Homo sapiens: one gene and its partners. The protein of the gene in region 1 interacts with the protein of each later gene in a biochemical or structural test. Each region holds a gene or a part of one and is shown on either strand. Other genes may lie near its edges.

Region 1 (3,648 bases):
GGGCAGTGCTGAGTGTGGAGCTGGACCCTGTGGTGAGCTGGGGTCTGGGCCAGGCGGGGTGGGGGGCTTCCACAGCCTCCTGCCCCTCACACTTCTCCCTCCTCCCCCTCCACACAGGAGGGGCGGCTGTTGGACAAGGAGAGCTCCAAGTGGCGGTTGCGGGGCCAGCCCACCGTCCTCCTCACACTGGCCCACATCTTCCATCACTTTGCACCGCTTCTGGTGAGCGGCATTGGGAGGGGCATGGGAGGGGAGGAGACAGGCCATGCTAGACACGCCCGTGGTAGATGTGCCCTCACTGAGGGCTGCAGTGCTGAGGTCCCACAGCATCACCTGGCGAGGGCCCCATGTGACCAGGGCCCTCAGACCTCAGTCAGTCCCCTAGGGAAACAGGGACATTGCCAACCAAGGGCATCAGGGGATGTCCTGGAAAGAAGACTGAAGGATAATAACATCCCAGGCCAAGGAAACTGCGTGTGCCAAGCCTTAGAGGAGCCGTGGGGCAATGGCCTTCTTGTCCCTCAGTCAGACCCCGGAAGGGGTCATCTATGTTTGGTGTTGCTCGAGTGGCTCAAGGCTCTGTGCCTGAGGCTTGTGCCTTGGCCATGTGCCAGGGCAGGGGTGCCTTGACCAGAGTGGAAGGCCACCACCTCACCAGTGCCTGGCCTTGGTGCAGCGCAAGGTGTATCTGGTGGAGGCTGTGCTCATGAGCTTCTTGCTGGGCATCGTGGAGAAGGGCACACCCACACAGGCACAGTCCGTGGTGCACCAGGTCCTGGACCTCTTGTGGCTCTTCATGGAGGTGAGGCTCCTGACCTCAGGCCTCAGGCCTGGCTGTCAGTCTTCACTGGGGTCGGGAAGATACGGGGAGAATCTTGGAAAAGGCCCCAGTCATGGCTGCCTTGGCATCTCTTCCCCCAGGACTACGAGGTACAAGATTGCCTCAAGCAGTTGATGATGTCTCTGCTTCGGCTGTACCGATTCTCACCCATTGTCCCAGACCTGGGCCTACAGGTGGGAGCCCCTACCCCTGCCCTGAGCCCCCTGGGACTCGCCTGTCCACTCTGAACGCCCCCTCTCCACAGATCCATTACCTGCGGCTCACTATCGCCATCCTGAGGCATGAGAAGTCCCGCAAGTTTCTGCTTAGCAATGTCCTGTATCCTTTCCTTGCTGCCTGGCAGGCCAGACATGGGGTGCCCTCTGGACTCAGCAGAGGCCAGGAAGGGGAGTGTCATCAGGCCAGGGGTCCCCTGGGAGCATCAGGAGGACCAGAGCTGCCCAACGTGGCATTTTCTCTACAGAGCAAGGACGAGAGAGCAAAGGACTGAGCCTGGCCAGCCAGCCTAGCCAGGGGGTTCTGAATGACTGCAGACTCGGGCTACGCAGAGGTGTGGGAGGGGCCACAGGGCCTGCCCTCTTCGGCCACAGCCCAGCACTTTTGTTCATGTTCCACAGTGGGGATTCCTGCAAGATCTTTAAGGAGGCAGCTCTTCCTGCTTCCCAGAATTGTTGGGAACTGCATGAGTGAGTGAGAGCATAGCTTTGAGCCCCTGGCTGGGAAGCCTCAGCTTGTAGCCGTTTTCTTGGTCTGGGGTCTTCCAGCCTCCAGGAGGCAGACACAAAGCTGGGAGACACAGAGGTCAGAGTTGGGGCCTGAGAAAAGGCCACCAGTCCCTCTCTCCAGCTTGTCCCACAGTCATCTGTTCCTGTGACAAGCCCTTATCGTGCACCTGCTGGGTACTGGAGCTGGTGGGCTTAACCACCACAGCTTTTTGTCAGGGAGCATGCCCTGGGGGTCAGACACATAGCAGCAACATGCCCCTGTGGTGGTGGGAGAGCTGTGGTAGGCACATCCAGGGATGGGCTCCTGGGGAAGGACTCTTGAGGGTGTGCAGAGTGCCCTTTGGCAAGCAGAGCCCTGCCTTGACACCCGCCAGCTTCGACGTGCTCCGCTCCGTCGTCTTCTTTTACATCAAGAGCCCCCTGCGTGTGGAGGAGGCCGGCCTGCAGGAGCTCATTCCCACCACCTGGTGGCCCCACTGCTCCAGTAGGGAGGTGAGTGCACCCCAAGTGGGATGGGCAGAGGTCATGGCAAGGCCCCTGGCCTGGGCATCTGGCCACTGGGCATCTAGCATGAGGCCTTTTCACTGGCCCTGGTCCCTGAAGCCCTGGAGATGGAGTGTGGGTGTTCTGAGTGAAGGAGGCCTGGCTAGGTCCCAGGTGACCCTGCTGTATTCCACCTGCTACCCCTGCCTAGGGCAAAGAGAGCACGGAGATGAAGGAGGAGACCGCAGAGGAGCGGCTGCGGCGGCGAGCCTACGAACGGGGCTGTCAGCGGCTCAGGAAGCGCATCGAAGGTCAGCCCGCCTTGGGCACGGGGTAGGGTGGGAGGTGTGTGTGTGCACATGAGGGTGCTTGGAGGTGCCCATGTCTAGGTGGGACTTGGGGAACCCTGGTGGTGGAGCCCTGGCCCAAACCTGCCCCCCATCTCCTGGAGCCTGAGGGCCATGTTCCTCACCTGACCTCCAGTGGTGGAAGAACTACAGGTCCAGATCCTGAAGCTGCTGCTGGACAATAAAGATGACAATGGGGTGAGTGACTCCCAGGAGCCCTGGGTGGGGCCCTGTGGGGAGGGATGCTGCACTGGGCCTTAAGACCCAGAGGGTGGGAACTGGGTTTGGTTCCCATGGCAGGGGCTGGGGGAAGGTGCAGCACTGAGCCAGCCCAGTCTGGGCCTGCATTCTCAGCTCAGCACAGCCTCACTTTTCCCTCTCTCAAAGGGTGAAGCTTCTAGGTATATCTTCCTGACCAAGTTTCGCAAGTTTCTGCAGGAGAACGCCAGTGGCCGGGGGGTAGGTGTCCTCCAGGCCAGCCCACTGTGGATCCCCGGCTGCACTACACATGCCATGCCCTCAGCACCTGGCACTTCTCGGACTGCCTCATCCCTGCCTAGCCCCAAGCTTTTCTCTGCTGCTTTTCCCTCCCTGCTTAACCCTCGACCCTCAGGCAGGGCCTTGGATGAGGAATGGGCAAGGCACTGGACTGGCACCAATGCATGTTTCATGCCTGGTGTCCACAGAACATGCCCATGCTCTGCCCCCCTGAGTACATGGTCTGCTTCTTACACCGGCTGATCTCTGCCCTGCGCTACTATTGGGATGAATACAAGGCTTCCAATCCTCATGCTTCCTTCAGTGAGGGTGAGTGGCACCGGGGTCCCAGGTCAGTGAGGCTGGACAGAGCCAGGCGTAGGGCAGCCCCTAATGTTAGTGCAGAGTGCTGAGCTGAGGCTGTGGGCTGTGGGGAGTTGTCCCCGGCATCCTGCCTGGTTGAGTCCTACCCAGCCACAGGCGGCTTCTCCACTGGGGCAGCAGGAGCCCTGCACCGCAGGCCTGCCGATCCTGTGTTTGCTCTGATTGTCCCACGGGCTCCTACCATTGTGGGCTCTTTTCTTCCGTCCTTGCCCCCCCATTTCTCTGTGCGTCCTTTATAGGGCTGCCTTGGGTGGGTGCTGGGGGGCCCTGTGTTTGAGTCCCCAAGGGTCAGTGGGAGCCTTACCTGCCCTGGATTGGGGGATATCCCACAGGACTGGGGCTGGGCCTCTCTGCTTCTCCTGAGTGAACGGCTGCCATGAGTACCCCCATC
Region 2 (3,648 bases), on another chromosome or scaffold:
CTGTGTAGAAAAAACAAGACCAGAAAGCTCCAGATAAAGAGGCCATACTGCGGGCCACCGCCAACCTGCCCTCCTACAACATGGACCGGGCCGCGGTCCAGACCAACATGAGAGACGTGAGTGTCAGCCCAGAGCGGCGGCGGGTGCATGGGGTCCCCGTGTGGGGGATTGCTGTGGGGGGGTTCCTGCGGGGCGGGGCAGCAAGAGGAGATTCTCTGGGAGGATTTGGGGAAGCCGGTGAGCGGGTCTGTAGGACTGCACTATTTTGCATTTTTTCTGTAAATCAAAAATTATTTCCAAGTAAGAGTTGGAAAGCCATCTGAAGGCAGGATTGAAAAGATAGATACCCCTGGGAAAACGTCAATCCGGCCCTGAGTTTGGCAAAACGTTTAGATAGAATTCTGAACCCGAAGCGGGTGGATCACCTGAGGTCAGAAGTTCGAGACCAGCCTGGCCAACATGATGAAACTCCGTCTCTACTAAAAATACCAAAAATTAGCCGGGCGTAGTGGCAGGCACCTGTAATCCCAGCTATTCAGGAGGCTGAGACAGGAGAATCACTTGAACCCGGGAGGCGGAGGTTGCAGTAAGCCGAGATTGCATCATCGTACTCCAGCCTCGGCAGCAAGAGCGAAACTCCGTCTCAAGAAAAAAAAAAACACACAAATCTGAACCCGTGAGTTATTTTGGGTCAGAACATTCTAAGTTAAAAAAGAAAAGTGTTTGCAGTGCTCACGTGGACGCCGCAGCAGGCAGGGCAGGCACGTGCTGTGCCGGGGTGGGAGGACGGCTGGCTTCCAACTTCATCTGATGCCAGTCCAACCTAAGGGCACTGCTATAAGCCCTGTTTCATTTTAGGAATGAACCTCTTGGGGTGTCTTCCAGAGAGTTCTGTGCTGACCAGGGCATGGTGGCTTTTCCCCAGCAGCCAGCATGTGTGTCTCCCATCCTGTGTGTGTCCGGCTCAGAGGTATTTCTCTAGTGTGGTGTCCGCACCAAGGCTCACACTTGTGTGAGAGTAGGGACAGCTGACGCCTGACCTCTAGGCCCTGTAGCCAGGAGCTGTTCTGGAGGGCATCTCCGGTCCATCCCACGGCTCCTCCTGCCTGGGGAGGACAGTGATGGCCGCCGCAGACGCTGTGTGGCAGCCATGCCTCCACTGGGGGCTGGCAGACTCATGGGGGTGGAGCCTCAGATGATTCTGTTTTCTTCAGTGAAGCCAGAGAGGGTCTTCAGCTTGCCCTGCACCTGCGCCAGCTGGGCCGACGGTTTCCTCACAGGGCACAGGCTGAGTATCGGGCCAGCACTGAGTGACCGTCACCAGGCGTTCCTGTCCCTTTCCACTGGCTTCAGTCCCACCTGCAGGGAGGCTCTTGGCCCTGCCAATCCCCTGCCTTGCCCTCAGCTGATCCTGCTGTCTTGCAAGAAAGCAATGTCATCTCAACTCTCAGAATCAAGAGTTCTAGGACAGGGGAGCAAGTCATAGATCCAAGTAGGTTTGGTGGACATTTAGAGAATTGATCTCCTTTTTTTTCACCACAGTTCCAGACAGAACTCCGGAAGATACTGGTGTCTCTCATCGAGGTGGCGCAGAAGCTGTTAGCGCTGAACCCAGATGCAGTGGAATTGTTTAAGAAGGCGAATGGTATGAGTCAACCCCGATGCTGCATTCCAGGGCGGTTCACTGCCGGCCTTGGGGAGCGTCTGCAGCTCCACGCACTGACCACTGACCGGAACCTCAGTGCTTTATGGAAGCGCTGATGAGGGCCTGGGGCCTGCCTCACCGGCAACTCCTGTTGATGTGCCTGAGGGCGGGCAGGTGGAGCTCAGACAGATAATTGCTGCAAATGTTTGTGCTCAGATAAGGCCCCTGAACCTGAGGCTGGAGCCCTCATGGCCCTGTCGTCTCCCTGCAGCAATGCTGGACGAGGACGAGGATGAGCGTGTGGACGAGGCTGCCCTGCGGCAGCTCACGGAGATGGGCTTTCCGGAGAACAGAGCCACCAAGGCCCTTCAGCTGAACCAGTGCGTGGGGGGCCACCTCCTTCCCTTGCCGGAGACACCTGGGGCCTGGTTTTGTGGGGCTCCCACCGTGGGTGACGTCCTCCTACCCTAAACTCTTTGACTGAATCATTTCTAACGTGGGGTTTTGAAGAGGTACCTTAAATATGTGCCTCCAAAGTGTTTTTGGGGTGAATGTGACAGAACAGTCGTTGTGTAAATTCTCTTTGGGCCGTTGTATGAGAACTCAAGGTGAATCCCGTTCGTAGCAGGGACACGGCCTCTAACAGTCTTCTCAGGATTCCCGTGTGAGTTACTTGCCCTGCTTCTGTGTTCAGATCTAAAATGAATAATCCGAGATCCAGGGGCAGCCGGGGGCAGTTCCCCCTGTGGTCCCTATCTAAGCCCTCAGCAGATATCTCTGGGTCCGCTTGCCTCTCCTTAGACATGGGCTTCTGATTCTGCCCAGGGTCTCAAGGTAGTCTGAGGCAAGGACCAGCGCTTCCGTCGCACCTGTGTTCATTCAGGTTCTTGTTATAAGGGTCACCAGCTGATGCTGGAGAAGTCACTACCATAGCAGAGGCTCTTCTTGGGAATGGACAGGAGGCGAAGGCCCTGGTCCGTTAGTCTGGGGATGTTGGAAAGAGTCTCTTGCCTTGCAGCATGTCGGTGCCTCAGGCCATGGAGTGGCTAATTGAACACGCAGAAGACCCGACCATAGACACGCCTCTTCCTGGCCAAGCTCCCCCAGAGGCCGAGGGGGCCACAGCAGCTGCCTCCGAGGCTGCCGCGGGAGCCAGCGCCACCGATGAGGAGGCCAGAGATGAGCTGACGGAAATCTTCAAGAAGATCCGGAGGAAAAGGGAGTTTCGGGCTGATGCTCGGGTATGTGTTACTAGACCTGTCGCCAGGCAGAGTCGCTGTGTCTTCCCTTGAGGTGGCGCCATGGAAAGGAAGCTGGGGCTGCATGGCTGACCTTGGGCTGAGCTGGCTCCTGTCCCAGGAGAGAGAGAAGCTGGGGAAGGGGTTTACAGGTGGGCCTGGGAAATGGCGAGCCTGGGGGCGGTGGGCCTGGGGACCGTGGCCCGAGTTTCTGAGCACACCTGTAAGTTATCCTGGCTTGAATCCAGGCGCCCCAGTTTCCTCTGTGTTGCCACATTCGTCACCTTTTGAAAAACTTGATATTTTACAGTTCCTTCTGACCACTCATCCACAAGCCCCCCCTGTTCGGCAGCCTCTCTGCGGGGTGGGGGCCCTGCCCAGAGACCGGGAGGGTCATTTGCCGTCGGGGGTGTCCATGAGCGAGGGGCCGCTCAGGCTGCCAGCCGCCTCCATGGCACAGTCTGCAGGGCTGAAGGGTCCCTGCGCCTGTGTGTGTGGACCTTCCTCGCCCGCGCCTCATCTCCCCATTCTTCCTTCTCTCTCCTGTTCTTTGATTCGGGTTTTACTTCCTCCTTGGAGGTTTCTGTCTGTCTCCGACATGCTCAGATGGCAGATCTGCTCCATCTGCATGCTGTCGTCTCGTGTGGCACTGATCGTTTCCTTGGGGTGTGTGACATTGTGCTGTGGCCTCACCTGCGGAGCTCGTGTTTTCCATGGAGTTCCATGTGGCCAGGCTGTAGACATCCACCTGGGGTGATTCTGAGT
Region 3 (3,648 bases), on another chromosome or scaffold:
TTTTATTTGTTAAAAGCAGTTATTTCAAAAAATTATTTTTATTATTTATCATGTCATTTGGACTGAAAATACTATACCATATTTCAGTGTTAGGGCACACCTATCCCTCTTTATCCCAGACGTCAATTCTACCATATAACAAGTATGTAAAAAAGAAAACATAAAAGTGATGACAGACTCCCTAATCAACCTATTTATTGGTTCTAAGCCCAAGCCTGCAGTTCATTTAAATAGTGAAAATAGATTACTTAATTGTCTTAGAAAATATGTCTTCCATGACAAGAATTTTAGGAATGAGAAAATAACTATTTTTGGATGTTTTAACACAAATTCCCAAATCATGTTTTATTGATATTTGAAGAACCTCTTTGTCTACCAGTTCTTAAGTATAGGCTTATTTTGTAAGGCTTAAACATGTATTGGTGTTTGACTGTTAAGACTTGATCTATAACCTTCAGTGTCTTTTTCTTTTAAATGGGGTATGGACTTGGTAATGAGGCCAGAGGAGAATACCTTACAATTTATAGCATCTGCATATAATACAAGAACCTTCATGATTTATAAAATTAAAATGATGATGATGTGGAATGATGGAAGAAGCATGTGTGGGTGGCTATTTATGTAGAGGAAATTAGAAGTTGAAAGCAATGTTAAGAATTAAAATTAAATTACACTTAATTTTTTGCTCAGTTGGATAGTCAGGAAAGTACTTAAATCAGCAATTGATTTACGTAAAATCAAAACTGAAAACTGAATATACAATCTAGGAAATAGGAAAAAAATTTTTAGTGTGTTCATACTGCTAATTTCAAACCAAGCAAAAAACCTGGGGAACTACTTTTCAGAGGAGATGGCTTAAAATGAACCAAAAATATAGCCATTTCTCTACCCTATTCATTTAATGCATTCATTTATTATACTGCTAATACATGATAAGGTGAATAGGTTAAGCATCGTTTGTATATGTGTATGTGATTTTAAACCTGAGTCTTTTGAAAGATTGGTCAAAGCAAAGGATAATGAAAGCATAAAGATTTAGGGGGAAGAGTCCTCTATAAAACTAAGACTTAAACTTTGTTATCAACTTGAATGTGAAGATAGAATAATCTAGAAAGTGAATGAGAATTATAAATAAAAGGACAAATCATATATCTCATGGTTGAGAAATACAATGAGATAAATTGTATATCTCATCTCATGGAGGGTCATAATGAAAGAAGTAAGAGAGATTGCCCTTGGATAGAACCTTTCGGCAGACATTTCATAATGGATTATCATATTTTTGCTAAACTGGTAAGAATGGACTTTTCACCACATTATGAAAAAACACTTTAGAAGTCAGTTGCGATCAAGCAAATATAAGTACCTGGGAAATTAAAATCAAAAGCACAGCAGTCCAACAATAGTCAAATGCATTTACTCACTCTCATACCATATCATAGCGTTAATTTGAGATAATGTCTTTATGGTGTCTCTTTATATATTTACTCGATTTCCCATTTAAGACATTTAACCAAATTTAAAAAGCAATCCTTAGAAACTTTAAAAATATTTCCTATTTTAAACCATTACATAATCATTTACCCTGCAGTTACAATTCTTTTTTTGTGATGGGTGGGGAAGTATCCCATTTCTCTTAGAAAGTCTTCTGTAATAGCCAAATAGGAGTCAATCCAAGTTGCTTAGAGAGGTAGTTCAATCCTGTGTTGAAATAGATGACTTTTGGAGTAATTGTGCTATATTTACTGAGTATCTGTTGAACTGTAGGAGTCCAGTCATTCAAGGCAAGCTACAGAAATGATTTTATTGCTGAGGCACTTAAGTATCTTCACATCTATATGCCAATATTAAATTTCTCATCATCCTTGATCCCCACCCCTTTGCACAGATTGGTATCCCCAGCACATTAGGGAATGCGGTTGTTAGCCTGTTAGGGTCCATTCAGTAGATTTCTCATGCCAGAAATCTAGAAGCCCTTCTTATACATTCAGCTTTCTTCTTCAGTCAGTCACCAAGTTCTATCAAGGCAGCCTCCTCATCTCCAGAATCCATCCCTTCCTCGTTGAATTTCTAGATTTTATTTTTGCATTGTCTCCTGCTTCTAACCCATCGTTCATTTCGCATAATGGTCAGCTTTCTAAAGTGTAAATCGGATCATGTCTCTGCAGTGAATCCCAGTTGTCTTCACAAGCTGATTCTCGCACACCTCACCCCCTTACTCCCTCCGGTGTTCCCCAACCATCCCCTAATCTCAAATCCTCCACACCGACTTTCAGTTTCCTATCCACAGTTTCTGACTTTGAATGCCTTTGCTTATGCCCTCCCTGTATGAGAAGTGCCTTTTCTTTCCTAGCCATCCTGCTAACTTCTAAACCCTTAGGCCTGGTTTGAGCATCACCATTTCTCTCACTTGCCTTTCTGTTTTCTCCCTCCCCTTTCCATAAAGAGTTATGTGCCCCCATTCTGTGTTCTCCTGAATTCCTGTGGGTCCTAGAAAAGAAACATCTTGAGGGCAAGGAGTTCATCTTATTTACTTTTTATTTGCACAGCACCTGGTGTGTTTGCTGAATAAGTAAATACCGAACAAGATATCAAGAGACAGTGCTGCCAATTAACTGTGTGGCTCTGAGCAAGTTAATTAACTTCTCTGAGTCTTATTTTTGTTCTGTAAAAAAAATGAGGTTTGACAAAATGAGCATCTCTCTCTAAAATTATGTGTTTCTTTGATGTAATTGTATTAATTGGAAGACTTCAGATTTTCTTGCCATATCAAGATAGGTCAACTTAAGAAAAATGCATGTGAGTAAGTACCAAGCCAATTCTTGATTATCAGTATGATAATATGAGGAACTGCCCATTTTGTCGATAATAAGTTATAATTTTTGGTCTCAGTGTAGGTTCTTTCTCAAATCCAGATGTTTCTGGTGTTGCATTTTTTCATTATTATTCAGTCTCTCGCATTCATATTTCTCCAAAGAAATTTATGGAAAACTTGAGACAAAAATTGAATGTAAAGTTTAATATTTAAATGCTAGATTGATTCAAGGTCTCACTAATTATAACTATATTTGGAGGGAGAAGAAGGGGAGGTGGTGGTAGTATGAGCTGAATCCTCCTCTGTTCCTTCCTAGAAGGAACACAACGTCCTACATCAAGAAAAAAGACAGAAGCATATCTTGGAGATATGAAAAGAACCACCAGGTAAACTAAAAAGAAAAAGAGTGTTAAAAAGTCAGCCTTTAAAAAGCAGGATTGGAGATGAGGAGGGGTGGAGTAGGGGAAGCATTGCTTGTTTATAGAAGCTCTTCCATCTTCGTATAGTGTGATTTTTATTTTTTTATTATTTTTTCCTTCCTTTTTTTTGACCTCCAGCTTTAGTATAGTACAGTTGACAGAAATTATATATGTTTATGGTACACAAGATGATGTTTTGATATACATATGCATTGTGAAATGATTAAATCAAGCTGATTAACATAAGTAGGGTTTTATTTCTTTAACAGTGATTTATTTGAATATATGTTGAGTCCTTTCTATGTGCCAGACACAGTTCTAAGGACAAGGCACACAGTGCCAAACAAGACAGAAATCCAGAAATTCATGGAGCTTAAATCATGTAGTCTTTTCAGTTTTTAAAATTTTCTTGCT

Evidence for each region.
Region 2: the proteins of RNF123 (region 1) and UBAC1 form a complex in vitro, tested with the Homo sapiens proteins (one study listed by BioGRID).
Region 3: of the proteins of RNF123 (region 1) and NFKB1, one has a biochemical effect on the other in vitro, tested with the Homo sapiens proteins (one study listed by BioGRID).

Annotation. Positions count from the first base shown.
Region 1 is NC_000003.12:49,699,551-49,703,198, forward strand, and holds part of RNF123 (E3 ubiquitin-protein ligase RNF123), read left to right. Parts: coding exon 1-32; intron 33-117; coding exon 118-222; intron 223-676; coding exon 677-802; intron 803-921; coding exon 922-1,014; intron 1,015-1,085; coding exon 1,086-1,159; intron 1,160-1,940; coding exon 1,941-2,058; intron 2,059-2,260; coding exon 2,261-2,360; intron 2,361-2,532; coding exon 2,533-2,594; intron 2,595-2,783; coding exon 2,784-2,855; intron 2,856-3,082; coding exon 3,083-3,203; intron 3,204-3,648. UniProt on the Homo sapiens protein: Catalytic subunit of the KPC complex that acts as E3 ubiquitin-protein ligase. Promotes the ubiquitination and proteasome-mediated degradation of CDKN1B which is the cyclin-dependent kinase inhibitor at the G0-G1 transition of the cell cycle.
Region 2 is NC_000009.12:135,944,266-135,947,913, reverse strand, and holds part of UBAC1 (ubiquitin-associated domain-containing protein 1), read left to right. Parts: intron 1-8; coding exon 9-116; intron 117-1,542; coding exon 1,543-1,645; intron 1,646-1,916; coding exon 1,917-2,025; intron 2,026-2,663; coding exon 2,664-2,886; intron 2,887-3,648.
Region 3 is NC_000004.12:102,507,749-102,511,396, forward strand, and holds part of NFKB1 (nuclear factor NF-kappa-B p105 subunit), read left to right. Parts: intron 1-3,131; exon of another isoform or gene 3,132-3,184; coding exon of another isoform or gene 3,185-3,201; intron 3,202-3,648.